Linked DNA regions of Homo sapiens. The protein of the gene in region 1 interacts with the protein of each later gene in a pairwise test. Each region holds a gene or a part of one and is shown in the gene's direction. Other genes may lie near its edges. The genes, in order: RCVRN and GIT2.

The links.
Region 2: the proteins of RCVRN (region 1) and GIT2 interact in a two-hybrid assay, tested with the Homo sapiens proteins (one large-scale study listed by BioGRID and IntAct).

The regions. Positions count from the first base shown.
Region 1 is NC_000017.11:9,899,025-9,902,565, reverse strand, and holds part of RCVRN (recoverin), read left to right. Parts: intron 1-1,465; coding exon 1,466-1,577; intron 1,578-3,541. UniProt on the Homo sapiens protein: Acts as a calcium sensor and regulates phototransduction of cone and rod photoreceptor cells. Modulates light sensitivity of cone photoreceptor in dark and dim conditions.
Region 2 is NC_000012.12:109,944,217-109,948,031, reverse strand, and holds part of GIT2 (ARF GTPase-activating protein GIT2), read left to right. Parts: exon of another isoform or gene 1-527; coding exon 528-776; intron 777-2,682; coding exon 2,683-2,772; intron 2,773-3,815. UniProt on the Homo sapiens protein: GTPase-activating protein for ADP ribosylation factor family members, including ARF1.

The DNA.
Region 1 (3,541 bases):
TTATTCTTTTTCAGTCCCCCTGCCCCTGCCACTTACCTTATTCTTCTAATTCCATTCCTGTTAGTAGAGACTATTGTTTAGATGTTAATAACTTTGTGTGCATTGGCAATCATGCTTTCATTTGCATGATGACAAATGCACAAAAATCTTCCACAGTTATTAGGAGAAATCATAAATAAAACAGCAGAGCATGCAGCTTGTGGTCCATGGGCTTATCCTCAATGCTCAGCTCGGGCCTCCCATTCTGGCAGGCATGTGTCTCTCTCATTGTTATCTTGGCACAGCCTGCAGAGAAAGCTCCCTCGGATTGGCTGTGGGGTCTCTGGGTGGCCTGGGACAGGGACTAAGTCTTCAGAGTGGCATAAACAATGCAGGGCCCAGCAGAAGCCTACAAATTGATACTCATTGAATAAAAGGAGGAGGAAAGGGAGGAGGGGGAAATGAGGGAGGGAGAGAGGGAAGGTAGGAGTCAGGAAGGAAAGAGGGGGAAGCAAGGGGAAGGAGAGAAGGAAGGGAGGGAGGAGAAGGAAAGGAGGAGAGAAAGGAAGAAAGAAGAAAGGAAAGGGAGGGAGGGAGACTCCATCAATGGCTGGGGCTGTGCAAGGTGGCAGAAGGCTCTGCTATTCACCAGATTACAAGTTCATGGGCAGAGCACTGACTGAGGGAGTTAAAAGTGAAGGGTTCTAGTCCCAGCTCTGACTCCAACTAGCAGTGTTGCTGTGGGAAAACCATATAACCTTCCTGGGCCCAGGGTGAGGATTTGATTATTTTTGCAGTCTTTCCTGAGGCTCTGGAGGTCTGTCCCTCCGTGTTGGAAGTGGGGTGGGCAGGCACTCACTGCCAGCTTCTAGCTGGCACACCTGCACATGGTGCCCAAGGCCCTGCACAGATGGATAGGAGTGTAGGAGCCACCTACACTGGCGTCCAGCTCAGGGCTTTGAGTGCTGCCAGCGACGCTGCTGCCCTGGGCTGTGGCTTTGGCCTCTTTACTCCTTTATCCAGCACCAGGGGGCTGAAGGGAAACTTCTCAAAGCTGTCGACCTTCCCTCCAGGATAATTTCACAGCCATTATTGCCCCTGCCTGACCTGCTCACAGGTGTCTCCGGGGAGGCAGAACGCAAATGGTTTGCGAATGTTTTCTCCCATTCCATAAGTTACATTTTGATTTTGTTCATTGTTTCCTCTGACATGGAGAAGCTCTTTAGTGTGATGCTATCCTGCTTGTTTATTCTGGTTTATGTTGCCTTTGCTTTTGGTGTCATATCCAAAAAATTATCGTCAAGACCAGTGCCAAGAAGCTTTTCCCCTACGTTTTCCTCCAGCAGTTTGACGGTCTGAGGTCTTATGTTTAAGTCTTTAATCCATTTTGAGTAGATTTTTGTGTACAGTGTAAGATGTGGATTTTCCAGGGTTGCCAGCCCCTTAAAGTTCCTCCTAACGAGTTCTTTCTTTCTGTTTGGTACAGGCTATTTTCAAAATGATCACTCCCGAGGACGTGAAGCTCCTTCCAGACGATGAAAACACGCCGGAAAAGCGAGCCGAGAAGATCTGGAAGTACTTTGGAAAGAATGATGATGGTGAATTCCTTTTCCTTCATTGCCTTTGATTTTTCAACCATGGGCTGTTTCCTGGAAATCCCAACAAGATTTATTCTTCTGAGTCACAGTGTCCAGGCAGGATGGGGGACACCTCATTCCATTGTGCATTTTCAGAGCTGTTTGAAGGGTTGGACAGGGGAATGGCCTTAAGGGTGAGCAGGAGCCAAAACTGTTTTCTGTGCAATTAGAACAAGAGCAAACTTCAGCTCACCCTAGCTTTGAATTAATATCGAGTCCCAAGTCAGTGGGATCTGTATTTCTATGGTTTTACTTTGGGAAGTTGGTTTGGGTCCTCTGAGAAACACCACCAAGATAGGATTAGATTTAAATGAGATTGCAAGAGATTTATGGGAGGAAAGGCTGAAGAAGGAAAACAGGCTGGGATCGAGAGGAGGCTGGGAAAGCTATCAGACTGCCAAGCAGATCTGACCCCTGGCAGGGAGAGAGGGAAAGAAAGGAAGGTTAGGAAAGAAAGGAAGGTTAGGAAAGAAAGGAAGATTAGGTAAGTAATGCCCGAGACTGCAGTGCAGTCTGAGGAAGTGTTGACAGAGTCGATGGGGTGTCCTCAGTGCCCCTGTCAGTCTTGGTGCCCCTGCCCTGTCAGTCAGTGGCTGGAAGCAGCCCCCAGGAAGTGTGATCCTGCACTGTAGGCAGTGATGGACTCCAGCACTCGGCTGCTGGGGCTGTGTGTCTGTGATGCTTACGGCCAGCACAAGGATGCGGTAAAGGAGCTGGTATTAGGCTGGGGCTGCAAACACATATGGCTGGAGGGGCAGGAATGATGAAAACGAGTTATGTGGACAGTCATCTACAAGCAGTGGGGATTGGCAAACAGCAGAGGGTGCACCTCTGGTCTGATGGCTTCCAGCATATTCCATGTGGGGCTATGGAACCCGTGGTTGAGACATCATCTGATTTTTTTTTAAGAGAAGCCAGCCATGAAGACTTTAAAAATCCAGTGTGTCTCAACTGATAAAACACAGCATGGCCCAAACACATCCAAGGGTCCTGTATTAACCCCTTTGGTGACCTCTGGAGGCAGTCTTCTGCCAAGGTTCAAGAAGAAAAAGCTGAGCAGGATGCTAAATAAGGGCAGAGAGAGATGACCCTGCTCCTCCTAATCTGCCAACAAATGATGAAATAAGAGAAGCATGAAGGTCATTGGGGTAGGAGGAACATAGGACACAGAATTTAAGGAGGCGCTCGTTCTCAGGGGTCAACAATGCACTCACAGGACCTGAAAGTGAGCGCCTCCTTAAATTCGCGCCTTGGTACTTTACCCACCTTTCCCTCATCGGCCCGGATTGGCCCCTCACCTTTGAGCACTCTCTCCTCCTTGCACAGACACTGGCTACCAAGATGCCTTCTTTTGGCACTTTGCCCCACTGGCTCCTTAACTGGCTTCGCGACCTCCCTCTGGGTCCGTTCATGTGTCGAGCCCTGTGTTCTGCTTTTTGCTCATCTGAAAACCTCCCTGGTGAACATCCCGGGAGGGGATGACGTCAGAAGCCCCGAGGTCGACGTGTTACTCCTGTTCGTGATGTGTTGTACGTGTTTCCACGCGGCCCATCTGGAGACAATGCCTCAGGGCAGAGTCAGGCTTTGATGGTGGGAGTTTCAAGCTCTCTGTGAGCTCTCTGTGGGGTGGCTGGGATGTTAAAACCCAAATTTTACCACCCAGACTTGCGGAGGAAGCCATCCTGGATCCTAACCCAGAAGGGATTAAAGGTATCCAAAAGGCCCAGAGCATAAGTCAGAAATCACATTCAGTTCAGCAAAGCTTTGTTGAGCACCGACTCTGTGCTAGGCACTGTGAACATACAACAGAAAGGAGCATCTGTCTCATGCTAGAGGTATTTCTGCGTGTGACTGCCTTCCCCGCCAGGTCAACAGTTTCCCAGGGAGGGACTTCATCTCACTCTCTTCTATTGTACACCCCGCCT
Region 2 (3,815 bases), on another chromosome or scaffold:
GGCGATCTGATTTTTCACAAGCTGAACTTCTGTCTTTCTTGCTTTGCAAAGCAACCCTAGTCATCTTTGTGCTGCTTCCATGGTGTCTGCTGTCATTTTTGGCCTTTACAAATTGCTCAGGGCTCATTTGAAAAGCAAGTTACCTAAATGATGTTTTAATGATCTCGAACTCTTGCTTGAAACAGCCTTAGTAATAATCCAGTGTACAGCTTGCCTGCAAACATTTCCCAGCCCCACCATGACAAATTTTAAAGTGGTTAGACATTTTGTTTTGAGGAAGTCCAAACCACAACTTTTCCACATTCAGAAATGAAGCTATTTAATTTGCTTACGTGATGAAGGGAGTTGATTGTGTTTCACCCAATCCAGAAGAAAGGGTCCTTGTTTGTATTGGCTTTTTACTTTCAGCCCGGCTAGCTGTTACTGTCCTTATTGTTTAAAACTGGTAGTTGTATTCATTTACTTGGTGTTTGCTTTTTCTGCTTGCTGTAAAAAAACACAGTCCCACTGCCAAACATTTCTTTCAGCTTCAAACACTCCAGAGTGAAAATTCGAACCTCAGGAAACAGGCCACAACCAATGTATATCAGGTGCAAACTGGTTCTGAGTACACAGACACTTCCAACCACTCTTCCTTAAAGAGACGTCCGTCTGCCCGGGGCAGTAGGCCCATGTCCATGTACGAGACCGGATCAGGTCAGAAACCATATCTCCCAATGGGAGAAGCGAGCCGCCCCGAAGAGAGCAGGATGAGACTCCAGCCCTTCCCCGCGCACGTAAGTAACACCACTGGCGCTTCTGCTGTTCACTCTATGCAGCCTGTCTACTCTGTTCCCTCTTCTGAACCTACAGGTCCCCACAGCTCTGCTTTGCCAAATTGGACTAAGAGAGTTACCATTGTGTTTGCTGTATTAACATGTCCACAGATGCTTGCGATATTCCCACAAGCACACAGGGCCATGGGCTGATGGTTTCCTAACCAAGTTGGGGATTCTGGCTCTTGCCCGAACTGCTGCTTTTTTCTCCCCCACATCCATGATTATTTCTCAACCAGCCAGTGTTGGAACTTTTTTTGGTAAAGCTTCCTTCCTTCTCTACTTCCAAAAACAAAAATAAATCATAAAGTTCACTCTCAGAAGGAAGTGTTGCCTTCTTGGAGCTAGACAGGGATGTGCCCCTTTAAGTACTGGAGCCCTTAGAATCCAAGACGTCTTTTCAGCTCCTCCTCAAGCAGGTGGCCTTGAGTCTGTGGCCCAGGTACCCAGGCAAGGCTGGAAGGCTCCAGGCTTCCGCAGCCTCTCCATGTGTGCTCAGTGTGCCTGCTAGGTTCGCTTCTGCATCCTGCTCCTCCCACCGTGGTGGGGGAAGTGTGGCTTTGTTGTCTCAGAAAAGGAAATGTAATACTCTACATCAGTCTTAGAAGCGCTGAATTCCAGAGATTGTGTTCTGCAGCAGGGTTCTTACAATCTTATTTTGCATTGGGATACATACTGTGTTATAAGGTTTTCAAATATATTTCTTCTGGATTACTTTATTATAAAAATATGTGTTTTGCCAAGATGTTACATTTAAACTTTTTCATGGGATGCTTTTTCAGAGAGTAGTATTTGTCTTTTTGAGTGTCAAAGTTTATTATTTCTTCAGTCAAATTTTATGGGAGTTTCCAAAAAAATTCTCAAGGTAGATGCAAAGCAAGGACATGGTTTCGTGAATTAAACCCTAGTTTAATTTTGTCAATTTTCAGTGTGGTAAAATTACAATATTGTTTTACTATAATTGGGAGTCTGTTATCTCAGATTCTTTTTAAGATATTTGGGTTTAACATTCTAAGGCAATTGATTTGATACATTTGATGTAATGGGAATGCCACTGAACTAAGTTAAGAATCTTTTTTTTTTGAGATGGAGTCTCGCTCTGTCACCCAGGCTGGAGTGCAGTGGTGTGATCTCAGCTCACTGCAACCTTTACCTCCTGGGTTCAAGCAGTTCTCCTGCCTCAGCCTCCTGAGTAGCTGGGACTACAGGCACATGGTCCTGTGCCTGGCTAATTTTTTTGTTTTAGTAGAGACGGGGTTTCATCATGTTGCCCAGGCTGGTCTCAAACTCCTGAGCTCAGGCAATCCGCCCGCCTCAGCCTCCCAAAGTGCTAGGATTACAGGTGTGAGCTACCATGCCCACCCTAAGTTAAGAATCTTATTTTTGTATAGCTGAAGACAAAATTTAGGAAAAGCAACTTTGTTATTTTTCAGTGTACTTTCTTATTTTAGAAAAAATTAGAATATAAAGATATATCAGGAAGGCACTGTAATTGTACTAAAAATTAGATTGATAGTGTATAGCAACTTAGAATCATTTTTATAGTTTCTCATTTCACATCAGTCCTGATTGAAAAACAAATATGCATTTCATAGTATCCATTAAAAAATTATTGACAAGTTTGACAAATTATGTTAGGTATTTCCCTTATGGAAAAGCAGCCTTATTAAATTCAGAGTAATTTCCAGGAGGTGTTTCACCAAGGGTTTAAGCATCTCTGGGGTCCTGTCACTGGTGGCCACTGAGATTGCAGCACTCACGTCACATAATGTGTGGTGTTCCAGGATTCTTTTACTGAAGCTGGCAAGGTGGTAGGTTTTTGGTTTGTTTTGTATTTTCCCGAGTGTGTTTCTCTTTCCCATTCCAGATCGGGAGGAGTGCACTTGTGACCTCCTCTTCATCTCTGCCTTCCTTCCCCTCCACACTTTCCTGGTCGAGGGACGAAAGCGCCCGAAGGGTTAAGTACATTCTGAATGGTCTGCTCTCTGGAGGAGGGGCCGTGCTCCTGGGCGCTTTGTGCTTGGGCTCTGGCCCTCCTGTCCCTGCTAACTGCCCTTCCGTCCTGCATGAGGCAGCACTTCCTCCTGGTTTCTCACAGTGCATCAGGCTCACACTCGTCCACATGCACGCTCACCCATCGAGGGCGCCTCCCTTTCTCTAACCCCATACTGCTCATGTTCACGTCATATTTAACAAAGTTTGCAAATCACCCTACAGCATTTATTCTGAGCAAACTGTTTTTTTAAACAACGAGAAAATTAGCTGGCTGCTGGTTAGATATTATAATAGGCCAAATTTGTTCAATTTGTTCAGGGCTACAGTTGTCAGATTGAAACTGCTGTATGTGGACTCGCTGAAGTACTAAAATGTCATGCCTTTTTTTTTTTTTTTAACCTGTGACACATTTTATGTCAGCACCACAAGTGCTGACAAACCAAGGTTTACAAGTCCCTGCATCTTGAATCAGAATTGTAACACCTTGTGGCATTGGAGCTATGCAAGCAGCTGTTAACCTAAAGCTGTTCACTTGTACGGGTTGGTTAAACCTCACCTACTGGTGTATAATTTATGGTCTCAATAGCAGTGCATGATTCAGGTAAGCCTCTTTTAGAGTAGTCAGGCAGTAAGTATTAAGCACCTCCTCCATACACAGCGTTTGGGTAAGTCAATGAAAGGGTCCTAAGGACTTAGCTGGCACAGCCCCTGCTCCCAAAGGCACTGTCAATTAAAAAATACTTTCATGCATAAAGAGTGGTACATGACCACAACCTGGGAAAGCCGTGGAAAGGGCATAGGCTTTGAAATCCACGTCCCAGTTCTGGCTCCATCTCTTTTTTAATGGAAGGGTAATGTAAGGTAAGAGGAGGAAGGTGGCTGTGGGTAAGGGACCACCTTTACAGGCAAGGTGGGGTTTGCACTGGGCCTTTGCCATTCCCTCCACACCTAGGAATTATGGAGAGCCTTTCTTTCCTAGTTCCAGTGGCATATGGATTACCAAGG